Linked DNA regions of Homo sapiens. The protein of the gene in region 1 purifies or fractionates together with the protein of each later gene. This does not show direct contact. Each region holds a gene or a part of one and is shown in the gene's direction. Other genes may lie near its edges.

Region 1 (7,183 bases):
TCATCCCCACCCCGCTACAACTAACCAAAGTACACAAATCCTCTTTTTGCAGTATCCCTTGCATTCATTTCCTCTTTTCCATCCCTAAGGTCAATACTTCAAAAAAAGCCTCTAACTGGTCTCCAATTCATGGTATTATACTCCGCTGCCAAAAGACTTTCTCTTGAACTGGATACAAATTTCTCAATCTGATATTTGAAGTCCTCATTAATGCAGCTCAAATCCTTCCTTCTAGTCTCTCAGCATGCTTGCTAACTATGACCTGCTGGTGAGCCAAATTGACTACAGGGCCCCTAACATACCTTATACTGTCTCACGGGTTTCCTCACTCCTGCTTCACATGGATGTACATTCTCTATGCTCCCCACTGGCCAAAAGTCTACCCTTCCTCCAAAGCCCAAGTTAAACACAACCTTCTTCATTAAACTCATCTTGCTATAATCTAAACGTGATTTTTTCTGCCTCTAAACTCAAAGGAAATGTTATTTAGAATTTTCTTAGGGCTCCTATCACATACAACCTTGCATCTGTGGATTGTGGATATTTGTCTTTCACACCAGTTTTCTTCTACGTTATCTGAAAGCAGAAGCTTTGACAGTCACCTTACATTTCGAATAGACACTGCCACAGGATCCTGCATTCAGTAAACACCCCAAAAACATTTGTAAATTTTAACAGACTATTTACAAAAGTAGCTCCTACTTGAATTTAAGACACAAAGCATACAAAATCAGCTTTGAGCTTTCAGTATATTGATATTCAAGCAGGCAAGGTAAGCACCTGAGCTTATAAAACAAATCTCTAACTTTAGAAGGAAAAATAACTTGTTAACCAAGGGAATATGGTAGATAGTGCACAAATACAAACCACACTCACTTCATTTTCCTGGGCAAGTCTTAAAATTTCATCGAGTGTTACAAACGTATCATTTCCTCTGACTGCATCTTTCTCCATAAATCCAAGATGAATATCTGTTGCAACTAATATTTTAAATGTGTTTTCATCATCACTATATTAAGAAAGAAGAAACATTTCAATATATTAATAATTCATTAAAGGATATTCAAACAAATTGAGACAAACTTATAAAATAAATAATAACAGTTATAGAGTAAAATCATTTTTTTTAGCCTTAGAGTTCATCTGAAAATCTGAAGTATTCAACGTTATCATTAACATTACAGTTTTCCTAACCACTAGTTCAATACAGAACAAATGTACATAAATCTTTACAAGGTTCTATAACTGCTTCAAAAATTTATAACCTTGTTATAACCAGTTTTACAAACTCATGTAACCCAGGCCCAAAAGTTTGCTTGTTTTCCTCAGATAAATAAACTTGTTATTTATCTGACTTCGTACTCTTCCAGGAAAATCGAAGTTAATTTAAAAAGCCTTCCTCTAAGTTTATGAGTCAATTTTATACTAATATGCAATAATTTACATTCAGGGCCTTGAAGACACTTGCATGACTCTACTCTCTACAGAGTTAGATTTCATTAATAAAGTTGGCCAACACAGAATTGTTTCAATTTGAATTTGGTAATATTCAAAGGTACTTTAATGTGAAGTAGCAATGTAATAGTTATTAATACTCTTACACTAAATTTAATTGTATGAAATACTTTTATTTTTATGATCTCATCTCAACCCTCACAGATAAAGAGTCAGGCATTATTATCTCTGACAAATGAGAAGGCTAAACCCAGAGAAATTAACTGCTTTATCACATAACTAGTGACAGAAACAGGACTAAAACCCATGATGAAAACTCAGGCTATTTTCAATAAACCACAATGAATTTTTAAAAAATCTCTGTATATATCTCCAAAATTCAAATCTTTACAAACAAAAGATATTTCCACAAACGATTTCTCTTCAAAAACTTCAAAAATGATATGCACACAGTTCTCACTGATATATCCAAGAAGGTAGGTCAGATACTTTTCAAATCATAATACTACATGTTTCTGTAGCAATTTATGAAGTATTTTCTCATGAATTCTCTCATTTAAGCCTCAAAATTAATCTGAAAAAGGTATAATTATTCCAATTATACCAATGGCAAAATTGAGGCAAGGCTCAGAGAACTGCTGACTTGCCCAAGGTCACACAGCTAGTAGGGTCCAAGGACTTGAAACTAGGGTAAAAGACTCCAAGTCTAAAGTCTTTCCCACATAACTTTTTTTTTTTACGATCTCGGCTCACTGCAACCTCCGCCTCTCGGGTTCAAATGATACTCCTGCCTCAGCCTCCTGAGTAGCTGGGATTACAGGCATGCGCCACCACGCCTGGCTAATTTTGTATTTTTAGTAGAGACGGGGTTTCACCATGTTGGTCAGGCTGGTCTCCAAATCCTGACCTCAGATGATCCCGCTAGCCTCGGCCTCCCAAAGTGCACATAACTTTTACAGTCCTTTTATTTATTCCCATTCCATTCAAATTCATTTCCAGCTTATTTAATACTAGAGGAATTTACTCTAAAAATCTTAAACAGAACTGCATTGACTAATAAGAATTTGTCAGGAAAATTCAAGAATATTTATCACTTCAATAATTTAAGATGAAGCCTAAGAACATAAACAATACTATATCAATATATCAAATTACTGCAAGACTCCAATCTATAGCTGCATATTAGCTTCCAGTTAACAAACAGATAAATATTTAAAACATTCCAAATACCCTTTTTGATGACTAATATTTCTGTTCATAAACAGGTTCCTTATTTACTGCTTATTAAATAAGTTTTCTTTTACTGTGATCACAGTTGACGAGCTTTAGAAACCCCAAATAACAAGGGATTCCAGAAGTCAGGTGCTTACAGTGCATCTGCAGTACTCATTTTTATGGTCAGTCAAGCTCCTCTGGGACCAGGTTCTTCTCCAAGAACCCCTGGGTACTGTACTCAAATGTCAGAAAATGCACTCGATTCCAAATTCTAGAAATTCTAAAAACAAAATTACATCATAAAACACATTTTTTAAAAGCCTGCACGTATTTAACCAACATGATTTACGCTGCACAAGGTACAGACGTCTTAATTAGACTGGCAAATTTAGAAGTCTCATTTTCATCTAAGCACCCACTATACTTTTTTTTAATGAACTGAGCATAGAAAATAATATATCTCCAGTGTACATCCTGTTTCCTAGTTTCACCAAGATGATTAAACTCCTATTTTCCTTTCCCGTGCTCTTATGGGAAATTAATGTATGCTAAATAAATGGGCAGAAAGGGTCACATACGGTTCTGGTTCAACACACAAACAACTCTAGATGTGCAGATATTTTTAAGTTGCACGCATAGGTTACTCTGGAGAACAGAGGCAATCCTGTATTTCCTATTCAAACCCCACGATTTTTTTTAAAGGACCTGGCTAGTTTGGAAAAGGGAACGGGCCCGCGTTTAAAGCGAGTGTAAATAAACAAACACGTGGTCTGCGGAGGAACACCTTTAAGCACCAGCAGGATGACTGAAAATAGCCAGGTTTGGGGAAGAGTGGCTGCCACCGCGAGACAACCCCCACCACATCTGGAGCTCCAGATTCCGTCGGGATTCCAAGCCTCAACACGCCCTCACCGCAGGGAACCTCGGAATCAGAACGCTGAGCCCGCCAGGACCCCTCCCCTGCCCACTCGGCCCGCTCTTCCCGAGGTTCCAGTTAACTCTGGGCTTCCGCCTGGGAACCTGCAGAAACAGGAGACGAATGCGATTCCTAAATTACCCCACTGCTGGACTCTTCGAAGCCCCACAATCGCGACCCAAGGCTGTCTTCTTTTCGGGAAGAAAGGGCAGGATCCGTGAAAAGAAAACAACACGGTCTGAACTTGCCTCTGAGAACCCGCAGGGCCGTAAACCTGAATTCCGCGGGAGAGAACGGCGTCCGTTTCTCTCGCGACACTTCATGGATAACGTAGATGCTTCAAGTCCAGTTCGGCTCTCATTGGCTACCGCACGCAGTGAGGGGGCGGGGAAAGTAGCGGCGAGGCCCCGCCCTCACGCAGGAGCCAATCCTGAGCAGGCTAGGAGACGAACCCGGAAGTGAGATGCAAGGCGGCGATTTTCCCTTCTGTCAGGTGGGTTGTTATTCCCTGTCCCGGACCTCGCTTTTTGATGGACCGGCGCCATCTAAGAACTCCTGAGCCCGTGGGGGTGGGTAGCCTGTGGACACAGGCCGAGCCCTGCAGGTCAGGCCGCTTCGTGGTCCCCAGGTAGGACCGAAGCCGCTTCTCCGCTCTTGGCTGTTTGGAAGGCCGCAGGCGGAGCTCACGGGCCTGTGAGCTCCCGGCTGGTGGCAGAGTGCCGGAGCTGGATCCCCTCTCCCTCCCTCCCAGTCGCCAGACCCTCTACAGGTGTCGCCCCTAGGTCCTTGAGTTCAGCACATCTGCACTGCTTTGTGCTGAGAGCAGTAAGATGTATAGTGCAGCGAAAAATAATGTAGAACTTTTGAATTAGAACGTCTGCCCTTTCAGTTCCATTGAAGGGTCCTTGATCTAGGGCAAGTTGTTTTAATCTATCTGAACCTCCTTCACCAGTAAGGTTTATAGCCCCGCCTATCACTGAGTTGTTTGTAAGGAGTTGACATAGTTCGGATCTCTCTCAAAATAGGATATGCCCTTTAAGTTAGGAAACATACCCTGACATTCCTGATGGAATATCAGGAATATCATCATCAAGTCATCAGTTTTGTTTCTTAACTGTAAGTCGGGTAGATGCGCCTAGGCTTGGCTTTTTAAACTAAATATACCAGTAAAATTTTGTACATAATTTTTTGTATCTGGATCTGTAAACTCAAAATTTATATAAAGGGAGTTTTTATTGAAAGGAAAAGCATGTTGGGGGAGAGGGTAAGATCTGTGGTATAAGGTTACTATATTTGATATAATTACAAGTGAACTTTTATTTATTAGCATCTGTTAAGTGTTTAATGAATTGATGTATGGTCATTTTTGTGTTGCAAGGTTCAGGAATTAGTTTGAGAATCAAAGAAAAAGTGGAAGCTCCAGGAGAATTAATAAAACACAGAGCAATTCTGATTGGATATCTCTGATTCCAAGGGTGTCTCTGATTGGGTGACTGAAAAGCCGGATTGGCCTTAGGAATACTTTAGTAAAATTCTTACATTTTACAATAAAGTAACAGGACCAGAAAAGTTACTGGACATGAGTAATACATTTAAACTTGAGTTTAGTGCTATTGCCACTAGTAATAAAGTTTAATACCACATTAAGATTGTATACTGTTAAACTTGTGAGATTAGGTATCAAGAAATCAGTATCTTGGGGTTATGCCTAACTCTGGAACTTCTCAGAATCCATTCCAGGCAAAATCAAGTGACAAGACTTTAATTAAATGTAATGCTACACATACTTCTTAATGCCTTCTATAGACAAGTAGGAGATAAATATAAGTTAAATGTGGTCCTTATCTTTCAGCTTATAATCTTTTAAGGGGCTAAAACAAGAACAAAGTTAGAGGTGAAATGTAGCACCAAAAAAAGTAGAAAGCAGAAAGCGATCTAAATGAGAGGATCAAGAAAGAATGAAAGAGATAACATCAGAGAAGAGCCTTGAAAGACTGATTATATTTCAACAAATAGAGTTGAGAGGCTGGGAATTCGTATTTGTAAATTATCTATTGGTTATTCTCCTTTTCTTTAATTGATTAAGGTTTATATGTTGTGTAACCCTTTAAGCTGATATTGGTTTAAAAATTAATATGGCAGCTTAGCAGAATAAACATCAGTTCCTTCAGGAAGCCTTCTTTAATCCCTTAGGACTAGGGGAATTATGAACCTCCTGTATACTCATGGTTTCTAGACAAGGTCTTGTAGTAGTACTTATCATGTTGTCTTTGCCAGACACATGATGTCTTTGCCAGTCACCTACACTAGAGTAAGCTTCCTGAGGTGAAGACATGGATCTTGCTCATTATTGAATCCCAGTACCCAGAAGTTGGCACATACCAGACATTCTATTCATATTAGTTGAATGAAGGAATGAATGACAGCCAAAATTCAGTTGAAAACAAGGACCCAACTAAGAACTATAGTTGCCTATCAATAAACAGGACTACTTTTTAAAGCAGTGAATTTTCCTAGGCCTGAAATTATCAAAGTAGAAATAGGATAATTAGTGTAGATGCTGTGATAAAGATATATGTACCGATGACAGATTGGAACAGATGTCCTTTTGGGGGCTATTCCATCTTCAAGAATCCCTGATTCTTCGAAATAGTATTTTTAGGAATTAGAAGTTTTTATTTCTGCTCTATATTATCTGTGTGTCTAGTTTATAAAAATCTTGAATGCACCTGTCTTCATTGTATTAGTTATACTTCAAAACCTTTAAGCATTCATCACTGTTAGCATAACACCATCATACCTAAACCAGTAGATTAAAAATAATAGTTATAATAATATAATTGACTTAGAAGAAAACAACAAAAGTAAGAAGCATTAGACCACTATTAGATCATAGTTTGTTGTTTTCTGTCAGCATCAGTATTTAGTGTATGTAAGGGATATCATGAGAAAAACAAGAGTTTAGACAGGGTTTAATTGTATATGTTTGCAAGACTTATCTATGCAGTTGATAAAGCCTGAATTATTGTTTTACTAATAACTTTTGTATTTGTGTTTTCAGATCTTGATGAACAAAGCAGTCATAATTCATCTCTAGAAAGATTTATATCCTGGCATTTGAAATGCTTTTTATTTAGAATAGTAGTAAAAAATGGAAAAAGAAAAAGGAAATGATGATGGAATACCAGACCAAGAGAATTCCTTGGATTTTTCTGAACACTTTAACCAACTTGAATTGTTGGAAACACATGGACACCTTATTCCTACTGGTACTCAAAGTCTTTGGGTAGGCAATTCTGATGAAGATGAGGAGCAAGATGACAAAAATGAAGAGTGGTATCGATTGCAAGAAAAAAAAATGGAAAAAGACCCAAGCAGATTGCTTCTTTGGGCTGCTGAAAAAAATCGGGTAAAAAAAAAAATTACAGAGGGAAGTGTGACAGTAGGAAAAGCACTGGGTTCAAGCCAGAAGACCTGCCTTTACTGTTATGGCCATCATACCTATCTCTTGATTGTGAGGACCAAATGAGACAATGTACATGAAAGCACATATTAAGCTGCAAAGTGTCATGCTAGGTATTATTTGGGGGTTTAAGG
Region 2 (7,000 bases), on another chromosome or scaffold:
CTGCTTGTGTATTTCTAATTAAAAATACCTCATTTCAGTTAGTAGGAAGTAAAGATGTTATCTGTTTATAGAGAAGTTTTATGTAATATTCCAAAACAATAGAAAAAAGCTTTGATTCTTTTAAATAATTAGATTATTCAAGCCCATTATTATGACTTAAAACCTTGAGGTTATACTGACTATAAGAAACAATCACAGACCAAAAAAAATGGGTTAATGGTGGAATCTTTATTCTCATATGTATTTGAATCTTTTGGAATTAATACTGAACACATTTATAAGGTTTGCACTATGCCTTCTTCTGACTTCACTTCGAAAATTCTTTGAAATGTAACACCCTAGAACATTATGTTACCTTTATCCACATAAAGAAAGGATCTTTTCATTTAGAGATGAACTTATTGAAGATGAGCCGTCAGTGTTGTGTGTAATCAATACCACACATTTTCAGAGTGGTCTGAATCCAGAACAAAGAATGAGACAGGTACTCTGATGATATCAACTTGGCTAATTGGGTAAAAGTCTCTACACTAGTTGGGAAAAATCACTTCATGCATCTTTGTATTTTTTAATCAGTGGTGTGTAAGAAGATCTGTATTCCGTGCACTTTGAAGAGAGAAAGGGCTAAATTTGTGTTCCATATTTGATCTTTCCATTTTTGTCTTGTTAATATTTTAAAAGAAAAACAAAAACCTTTGCAGATCCATTCAGTAACCCAAAGTCATATTTCCTTGGCAACAGTAGCCAGTACACTAGATTTACAAAATATCAAAATAGAAAAATTTAAATGCATTCAAAATAAAATGTCACATAGTTCAAGACCATTCTTTGGTGCATTAAAACTGATCTTCCAACATGTAATAATACAGTTGCCTTTCTCCTGATTGAATGTAGATGGCAAAGAATAGATTACTGATTTTAATTCTTTTTAAGATGTCCCCAAAATCTTATAATATTTTCTTTTCAGGGAAGCACATTATGATAATAATTTAGGTTGGGGTTACACATCCATTTTTTGGATAAAGTATTTATGTGATAGTTGATGGTAAATCCAAAAATCAAGCACAATAAATGGGTCAGGTAAGATGCATCATCTTTTCTATGTTATTTGAAATAGTCTATAGTAAGGCCTCAATTAGTGTTAAACTCAGTGAATATCTCCTAAACTTGTGACTGCATAATAAAAACATATTAGTGCCTACATATACTTTCAGGTTTTCTTTTTCTGTACTAGAAACTGCAGTTATGTGGGAGCTTTCTGTTTGCTGTATGAACTACTAAATATATGTGATATATTGGATATATTTTCTCCTAAATCAGCACATCCTGGGAAGTCCTTTATTTGTCTGCTGTATTCTTTGGAAACCCTCTTGGGAACCATCAGCTTTTAGCTCAGTAAATATTGAGGGTTGGAAGGCAAGTCTCAAAAATAAGAAAGTGATAAGGATGCCTTCTTTGGGAAAGTTTATTCCAGTCCTATTATTTTAGTCATAGGGCTGGAAGGGGAGCCCATTTAAGCTGATCTGTGATGGACTCATCTCTAAACTGTGATCAGCAACTTTCAACAGTGCAATATTTACCCAATAAATGTGATTGAATTTGTACAAAGTCATTGTCTGCAGCCATCTCCGTTAATGTGCATGTTCTATGACTCTCAGAACTGGAAGAGAGCTTGGGGATCATCTGCTGACTCTAGCAATTTAATTTGACAAATGTGGAAACTAAAGCTCAAATAAGTGACTTCTCAAAATCAGGAGACTCATTCAACAACCCTTCTGATTACTCCCCTCATAAAGAAACTCAAGTTCCCTGGAGATAATTACAGCAGTGGAGCCAATCTCTGGCACCATGTGCACTGCTGATCTTTATTAAGTATGAGTTAGGGATGATTGCGGGGGTGTCTCCCACCTCCATTAGAGTGTTAGGAGGAGTAGGCTTGGGACTTATTACATTGCTGTCTCTTGGAGCCAGTGCAATATTTACCCAATAAATGTGATTGAATTTGTACAAAGTCATTGTCTGCAGCCATCTCTGTTAATGTGCATGTTCTGTAAAAAATTGCTCATGCATAGACTTAGCTTTCTATTTTAAATGTCACAATTGAGTCAATAAAGTAAACAAAGAGAGTTTATGAGTGTTTACAGTTCCAGGAACACACAGGGGAATCCTTTATTCTGTTTTAAATTAAAGCGTCATTCAAAAAGAACAAACTTTCTTAAATGTTGCTTTTACATCTTTGGCTCAGAACACAGTATTTCTAACTTTGTTTTTCTTATTACTTAGGAAACTAGAGAAATTTCTCCTTGGAAATGTCAGGGGGAAAATACAGTATTTCGGATTAACTTTAGAAAGCTCAGGTTTAAGGCTTATTGACCAGAAGACCTCTTTCTTATCCAAGTGTAGGGCAATTCATTGCACCTTGAGGTAGGGGAGGAGCAAAATCAGGCTGGCAGGGGTCCACGGCAGGGCAAGCCCTAGGAGCTGGTGAGTCTAGAAGGACGGACTAGAGAGAGCTGGCATTGGAATGGACAATCGCTAGAGGGCGCCGGAGCACTAGCAGAGTCAACCTCCGGGACCCATAAGCAGGGCTTCTAGGATAAGGAATGGAGTTTGACCCAACCCCAAGATATGCCCTGGGGATATTGGTTTTCTCAGGTGCATCTGACTCTCCGGCCTGGATTGCCTCGCTGCGGAGAGGGGACAAAAGGTTTTGCCCTGAGCATCTGGTGGTGTCTTCCAGTGCCTGGTTAGGTTGCTCCGCGGCTGGACAGTCTGACTACTCTCAAAACTCCTCGTGACAGGCCTTTCTGGGGTCTGATCGCCCTTTGTTTCCTTACACTTGGGCCTGTTATCAGAAGAACTCTGAATCCGGAAATACCTTGTTTAAATTTGGGCTACAGTTTTCAAGATCCAGGCATTTGGGTGAATCACTTAACCCGAGTATTAGGATCTGGAAAATGGGGCTAGTAATTGTTGTAAATGTGAGGTGTTTAAAAGTGTCTGGCATTTTAGTGCGTAGATAAATGCTACTTCCTGTGCCCATTCTCTTGGGAGTTCTCCCCAAACTTCACCCTTTAAAAAAAAAAAAAAGAAAAATTAAGAATATATTTTACTTAACACAAAATTTTAAAAAATCATGTAATCGATATAGAGATTATTGAGATATTTTACATTCTTTTTTTTCTAGTACTAAATCTTTGAAATCTAGCATGTATTTTTATACTTACAGCACATTTTAATTCAGATTTGCCACATTTTAAGTGCTTAATGCTCCTATGTGGGTAGTGGCTACCCTATTGAAACAGTGCAGATCTATAAGAAGAGAAAATAAAATTACTTTCGCCATTTTTCCTTTTTGTTAAAGGTTAGCAATAATATATACAATGCTTGGCACACAATAGGAGCTTAACACAGGTTCACTGTGATTGTTATTTGCTATCACCATTTTATTTTTAAATGGGCCTCTTCTCCCATCTCTTATCCCTTCCCCCATCTCTTACCCCTTCCCCCTCAGCAGAAGGGTCTCATTCATCTATCTGTTGAATAATAATTGGTCACAGCATTTATGTCAAAAGCTGTGCTAGGCACTGGGGATAAACATAAAAACTTGAGGCACAGGCAGACTGGTGAAAAGAAACATTGAAATTGTGCTGTTAAGTGTGAGGAGAAAGATGAACAAATGATGCTAGGTAAGAGATAAAGAAGGAGATATTTGGTTTGTCTCAAAGGACCTGGGAAGTGGTCCTTTACAAGTCCTGTTATACTAAGGTGTTTTTCCTCTCCCTGTATTTCAAGGAAACAGGTGGACAGAAGGTAATTTTGAGGGAGAAGTGGAGGGGGTGGCATCTCATTCAGCAGGCACTTTGGTTTGTATGTATTCTTAACAGCGCTAATAGAGATTCTAAAATCTAATCAACTTGCACCATGCCCTGTATGTAGTAATTTCATCAATATCATGAAGTAAATGCCTAAATCATTGACTTAATTCATTTAAACAGAAAATGATTTGGAAGGAAATGTAATAGAAATATAACCAAGAACCTTTACCATTAAGTGATGGGTCTGAAACAATCTAAATAAGAACTCTGTTTTAAAAATATTGAAAGGTGTATTTCATACAAATATCCATAAAAATGAAAAATAATAAGGGCAATAGAATGGCCCAAAACAATACTTTATCATTATCATTAAAGACAAAGAAGGCTTTTAAGATGTTAGTAGCCACTAGCATTGCAAGATGACTGAGGTGATGTCTTTGTTATCTTCGGAGCAGTTGATTCAACAGGTAACTCAGAGATATAAATTTCAGTGGCAAAAGTCAAGGAGTTTTGCACCTGACATTGTGCTAATGTGAAACTAGGGATGGACACCTTTGATCATGTGTGTTAACGTTATCTGGCCAGGTAGACTGCAGAGCTCCCGAGAAGCCATTGTCAGATTTCTTTTGCTTGGTGGCCTTTACGTCCTGTGACTTGACTGATTGTGAATTGTATTGGAGAAAAGGCACGATAAGAGGAAAAGAGTGGAAATAGTTGATTTTTTGGCAACTAATAACACTCATGATAGCTCCTAACCTGATTTAATTTTAAAAAGATGGGAAAATAAATGCCTCTTATGGAATAAGAGAATGTGAGAACTTGGCAATCCCATAAAATTATGCACACCCCTCCCATTTTCCAGATAAGAAAAAAGAGACTCAGCAAGGTGAAGTGACTTGCTCAAGCTCGTTGGTGGCCTAGTTACAGCAGTGAGAATAAAGGCTTCTTCACTCCTGGGCCTGGGGTTCTTCTCTGGCCCATGCCACACCACACTCCTCTCTCCTCTCCACTTCATGCTTCAGGGGGTCAGAACTCTCTCTGTCTTGCTCACAACTGAACCCCAAACAGTGCTAGGTACCTAGTAGTTGCTCAAAAACTTTTGGTTGACTGAATGAAATAAGCTGTTTCTTTCTTCCTCACTCATATCAGGAAATGTGCCAAGAAATCACAGGGTTGCAATGCAGTTTGATAAAGACAAATATGTGTTAAGTTTTGTTATGATAAGGGCTTAAGCTTTAAAAGTAAGCATACTTAGTTTGAACGCTGGCTCTGGCACTTAATAGCTGTTTTGCTTTGGGGAAATTACTAAACCTGTCCCTATTTCCTCATTTGTAAAAATGGAGATTAAACCATATATATAAGGCTATAAGGCAGAAGAGAGGCCTTGACTCACTGTATGTATGCACTCAATGTTTTTTTCCTACTTTCCCAACCTTGCTCTCCATCCATCCTGAGAAGATTTAAAGTGGGATATAGTACTTCTTTTAAAAAGTAATGTTAATTTATTTCAGATAATATGCATTTATCTTGCAGAAAAATAAAATTATTTAATTATATAAATATAAATACATACACAGTCACTAGAAGTGTATATTCTGTGGGTTAGATATTAATAGTACTGTTTTATAAATAATTTGGTCAGTTGTCAAAGCACTGGCAACTGGGAGGAAGAGGAATGAAATTTAGGGTATCCCTATTCCAATTCAGACCAGGGCACATTTATCCAGTCCATGCTTCATAAGATCTTTGCTTCTTGGGCTTGGATTCTCCAAGTTGAAGTTAATTCTCTTTACCATACCCTCTCCTGGCCTGGCTATGCTTCAGCCCCTGCATTGTGTGCCTTGTAACATGGTTATTCATAGATATGACCATGTCTGTAGCATGTTGCAAGCTTTTCCAAGTAGCAGTTGTATATCACACTTCTTGATATGACTCCAGAGAACCTAGAACTTTTTTGGCACATAGGATACTCCCTCTGTCACTCTGGGTGCATCTCCATTCCCTTAGCAAATATCCTGCATCCAGGCAAAGCATGCTTTTAACTTACTCAAAATCTATTCTACGCCTGCTCTCATTTATTAAAAATATTCTTATTATATTTTGATTATTGACTTTATCATATCATCCAAATTGATATATGAAGTTGTATGACATATTACTACTGCACATAGTTGTATCTGTAATACAACATATATTGTACTTCATGAAAAATTTATAATATTTTTCAAGGATTATTTTGACTACGTGTGTGTTGTACTTTACGCATTGACTTTAAATCACAGTCCTCACCTCAAATGTGCTCCACTATATTTGCAAGACTATTCTGTGTGTTGTATGTAGGTAGGTAAGATTGTGTATTGGTGAATGGCATAAATTTTAAGTCAGGAATTCCTAGGTTTGAATTTCAGCTCTGCTTAACCTGTTGAAGCTCAGTTTTCATAGATATAGAATGAGAATAATGATTGTGTCTATGTTATAGGATGGCTGTGAAGCTTGCTGTCACTTGGAAATTACTCAAATTGCAACCTTTATTTGCTGGTGGCATCTCTCACAAACTAGAGGCTTATTAGTAGTTAATTACCCTAATGGTAATGGTTTGCTGTGTTGCAGGGGAATTGTGAAAATTAGAAGTGTGTTTATGAAGGTATGGTAGATATCAGCAACAAAATGTATGCTTTTCATAGCTACTGAATCATTTACCCTTCTTCTCCCTTTCCTCCTCTCCTCTCTCTCTGTTCCTACTCACAAATTTTATGCCCAGCCACAAAAGGTGACTCAAGCGTTATGCTGGAGTTTCTCTAAGATAAAACTTCCTCTGTTTCTAATGGTTCCAGCTTTATTTCAAATGAAAGGTACGTTTAGTACTGGCCCCAGGAACACAACCAGAATACAAAATCAATCATTCCACCCTACAAGACCAGCAGCAGAAATTTATTGTATTTGACTTTGTTTCCCCTGCCCTTGTCCCAAAAGGATCTTAGGCTGCCAGCATTAGACAACATATTGGGTATCTCTCTGTTACGAAAGTCTAAAATGTTACTGGCATAAAATATTATCTTCAAGCCATGGTTCTCAAACTTGAGGATGAGTCAGAATCTCCGAATCTCCTGGAGGGCTTGTTAAAACCCGAAGTGATGGGCCCTTCCTGTGGAATTTCTAACTCAGTGGGTCTAGGGTAGGAG
Region 3 (3,243 bases), on another chromosome or scaffold:
TCCTCAGTGGGGAGAGACTTGCCAAATCTCTATCGCCAGCGGCTAAGGGACTTGACTTGAAGCTTGTACCTCCCTCTCTCTCCCTCCCCCTCTCTCCCTCCCCACCCTCAAAAGACAAGTGTGCCATTTGACCATCTCGGGAAGTGAGGAGAGCCCCCATTGGACCAGTGTTTGCTTAGGTGAGTCCATGACTGCTGCAGATGCAGCCAGCCCAGCCGACCTAGAAGCTCCCAGGGCCCCAGAAAGAGACCAATGTGTTGTGGAGGGGTGGGTGGCAGTGGCAGTGGCAGATGGTACCAGGCGCCCCAGAACTCTAAGGGGCCTCAAGTAGTTTAAAACCTCGGAGGCTGCCTGACTTGGGGCCAAGGGTTTCTATGCTCAGGCCTGACCCCTCATGGATTAGTTTCTGCTGGAAAAACTTTTTCTGCCCTCGGCCAGGTCTCTATCTCCTTCTGCCTTAACATATTTTGGAAGGTTGGTTCCCAGCAGAGACGGGGCCATGGGCTCACACTCTGACCTCTCCCACGGCATTAGCCCTGTCTCAGCCTCTGGGCTGTTACGCAAGTTAATTCCTGCACAAGACTCACAACAGGGCTGTGGAGGAAGCAAAGGAGCCCTTTTTATGCCTCTGTAGTAGGACTGAGAGAGGCCCTCTGGCCAGCGTGAGCCTGCTGGTTCTTCCCGGACTGTACCAGGCCTTGAGGCGGGGTATGGAAACGCCCCACTCTGGGGCCTGGCTTGGGGAAGGGGAGGCGGCAGGGGTTCTTTGGGCTTCTCGAGGGTATAATCTGAGCTCTCTGGGGAACGTGTGTCCATTTGTAGGCAGTAGTCCGACACGTCGGGGGACTCAACTTTACACTGGGACAATCTGTGTGTGGTCTGTTTTGTAGAAATTCATCCACACAAGAGAGTGGAGGCATGAACAGGGCTGGCCTTCCTCGGATCTCAGGCCCAGGAACCAAGCTGTCCATGGCGGGCTGGGCAGATATTTGGGGGTGGGGTGGGGAGATGCTCACCAGGAGGGCAGAGAAGGGAGAGAATCCGTTTCTGTCACATGAAGATGGATCTCCTAGCGTGCTGGGCCTTGAGCCAGGCTCTGGGGCCCAGAGGGAGATAGACCAAGGGACGAGAAGACAGGAGTTTGGGGGGCCAAGTGCAGTGGCTCGCACCTGTAATCCCAGCACTTCGGGAGGCCCAGACAGGTGGGTCACTTGAGGTCAGGAGTTCGAGACCAGCCTGGCCAACATGGTGAAAACCCATCTCTACTAAAAACACAAAAATTAGCCGGGTGTGGTGGCACACACCTGTAATCTCAGCTACTCGGGACGCTGAGACAGGAGAATTGCTTGAATCTGGGAGGTGGAGGTTGCAGTGAGCCGAGATCGTGCCACTGCACTCCAGCCTGGGGGACAGAGCGAGACTCCATCTCAAAAAAAAAAAAAAGTAGCCAGAGACAGCTGTGTACCTCACCTGTCTTTTCCCTTCTCCCTTCTAGTGTCTTCACTGTATTTTCTTTAAAAAAAAAAAAAAAAAAAAAAAGGCAAAAATAAACCACTCAAAAGAACAACAAAAAAACCCAGCACAAAACCGACGATGGAGTTTGTTTCTTTGATTTCTTTGCCAATGGCAAGAAGATGAGATGCCCTCAGCACTGAGGATTCTTGCCCCCTTGTGGTGCCCGCTGCCCCCAACCTTCAGGCTGCCAGATGCTCCCCTGACAACACCAGGCTACAGGAGCCAGACGCCAGGGCCTGCCCGGCCTCCTGTTCCTGCCCCCACCCACCACCTGCCTGGAGAGGAACGGGTCGGGTCCGTGTCGGAGAAGTGACAGGTCCCAGAGCCAAAGCCGGCCCTCAAGCATCATCAGGGAGTGGTGTAGTCAGTTGAAGGCAGTTCCCACCGAGTTTTCCGAGCCTCAGAATCCAGGAGATACGCACAGCCCCACCCACTCTGAGATGACAGTGGCTGACTTCCCGTGCTGGGCTTTTCCATTGTCCCCCTGGCCTCCAGGCTCCTCCTCTGCCTCTCCATGGAGTGGGTGGGGAGGTGGTGGGGGCCGGCGTCCCCTGCGTGTGTGTGTGTGTGTGTGTGTGTGGATGTATTGACCTGTGTTTCCCAAGACAGCAGGTGCCACGGCCCGCCCCGCCTGCCAGCCCGAATTCCCGTTCTCCTGTGTCTACTAACAAGGACATGGGGGTGGGCGGTGACCTCCGCATCCCTCAGAGCTCAGAGGGTCCTCGCTGCCACCGGTCCCCCCCTAGCCCGTCATCAGCCGGTGGCAGCTCCATCTTCCATTCCTGGTTTTAGGGCAGAATCCATGGAGACTGCTTCCAGAAGGCATCTGGCTCTGAGTTATAAATTACTTCCCTGGTCCTGACAGTCACCTGGGGTCCCCCCTCTCCCTGGTTCCACCTTTCTGAGGAGGAGCCTGGAGTCAGGGCTGGGTTTTGGATTAACCCATCCTTCCTAGTTAACACCTTTTTGTTTTTATTTTATTTTATTTTTGTTTGTTTTCTCCGTGTGTGTGTTTTCCTAATTTATTTACCTCTGTTTCCCCTTTTTCCTTTTTTTTTTTAATTAAAGAGCAAAGCTTTTTATTACTTTGTAATTTAAAAAACTGAAAAAAAAAAAACTGAAGAACTTTGGGGGGAATTTTGTACTTTTTTCCTGTGTAAATATTGGACTTTTTTGAGCTTTATCGTGGTTGTTAATTTGAAGTAATAAAGTAGAAAAGATAAAGTGATGCAGGCAGCCCTTTGTCCACCTCTGTGCCCTTAGGGCCTCTCCCTGCAGACCCGGAAGTGGGTCTTGCTGGGAGCAGCAGGAGTCAGTGAGGAACAAGCCCTCGCCCTGAAGGCAGGTGTGGCTGGGGCCACTTTCAGAACACTTGGGCTGTGGTTGGGATGTCCGGGGGCTTTGAAAACACGAGTGCACACAGGTGCCACGCCACAGGTGCCACGCGGGGGTCTTGTAAAGAGGGCTGGGGTGGGGCTGAGAGCTTCCCCCTGCACACTCCAGGTGTGCTGATGGCCTGGGGCCCCTCTTTGAGAAGCAAGGCCCTAAAAGCTCTTCACACATGATTTTATCCACACAAGTATCCTGAGTTAGGTCCTGTTAATAGCCCTGCCTTCGGACAAGAAACTGGTCCTGCTGTAAAATATCTTGCCCACAGTCACAGCTCTGGTGGCAGAGGCAAGACGAGCCGAGGTCATCTCGCTGTGGGGGTTGTGGGGGTGCTCTGAC

Evidence for each region. The genes of interacting proteins can lie anywhere in the genome.
Region 2: the proteins of ANKRD49 (region 1) and CPNE4 purify together in Homo sapiens (affinity purification with mass spectrometry; 2 studies listed by BioGRID and IntAct, with this or other methods). This does not show direct contact.
Region 3: the proteins of ANKRD49 (region 1) and CSNK1E purify together in Homo sapiens (affinity purification with mass spectrometry; 3 studies listed by BioGRID and IntAct, with this or other methods). This does not show direct contact.

What each region holds. Positions count from the first base shown.
Region 1 is NC_000011.10:94,489,957-94,497,139, forward strand, and holds the start of ANKRD49 (ankyrin repeat domain-containing protein 49), read left to right. Parts: upstream 1-4,027; 5' UTR 4,028-4,079; exon of another isoform or gene 4,080-4,214; intron 4,215-6,647; 5' UTR 6,648-6,737; coding exon 6,738-6,995; intron 6,996-7,183. Other genes in the region: double-strand break repair protein MRE11, read right to left, coding at 877-1,009, 2,826-2,845. UniProt on the Homo sapiens protein: Induces HBG1 expression. May have a role in spermatogenesis where it promotes autophagy in response to serum starvation, via the NF-kappaB pathway.
Region 2 is NC_000003.12:132,025,015-132,032,014, reverse strand, and holds part of CPNE4 (copine-4), read left to right. Parts: intron 1-7,000.
Region 3 is NC_000022.11:38,290,191-38,293,433, reverse strand, and holds the end of CSNK1E (casein kinase I), read left to right. Parts: intron 1-114; coding exon 115-147; 3' UTR 148-179; intron 180-1,495; 3' UTR 1,496-2,743; downstream 2,744-3,243. Other genes in the region: TPTEP2-CSNK1E (casein kinase I), read left to right, coding at 115-147.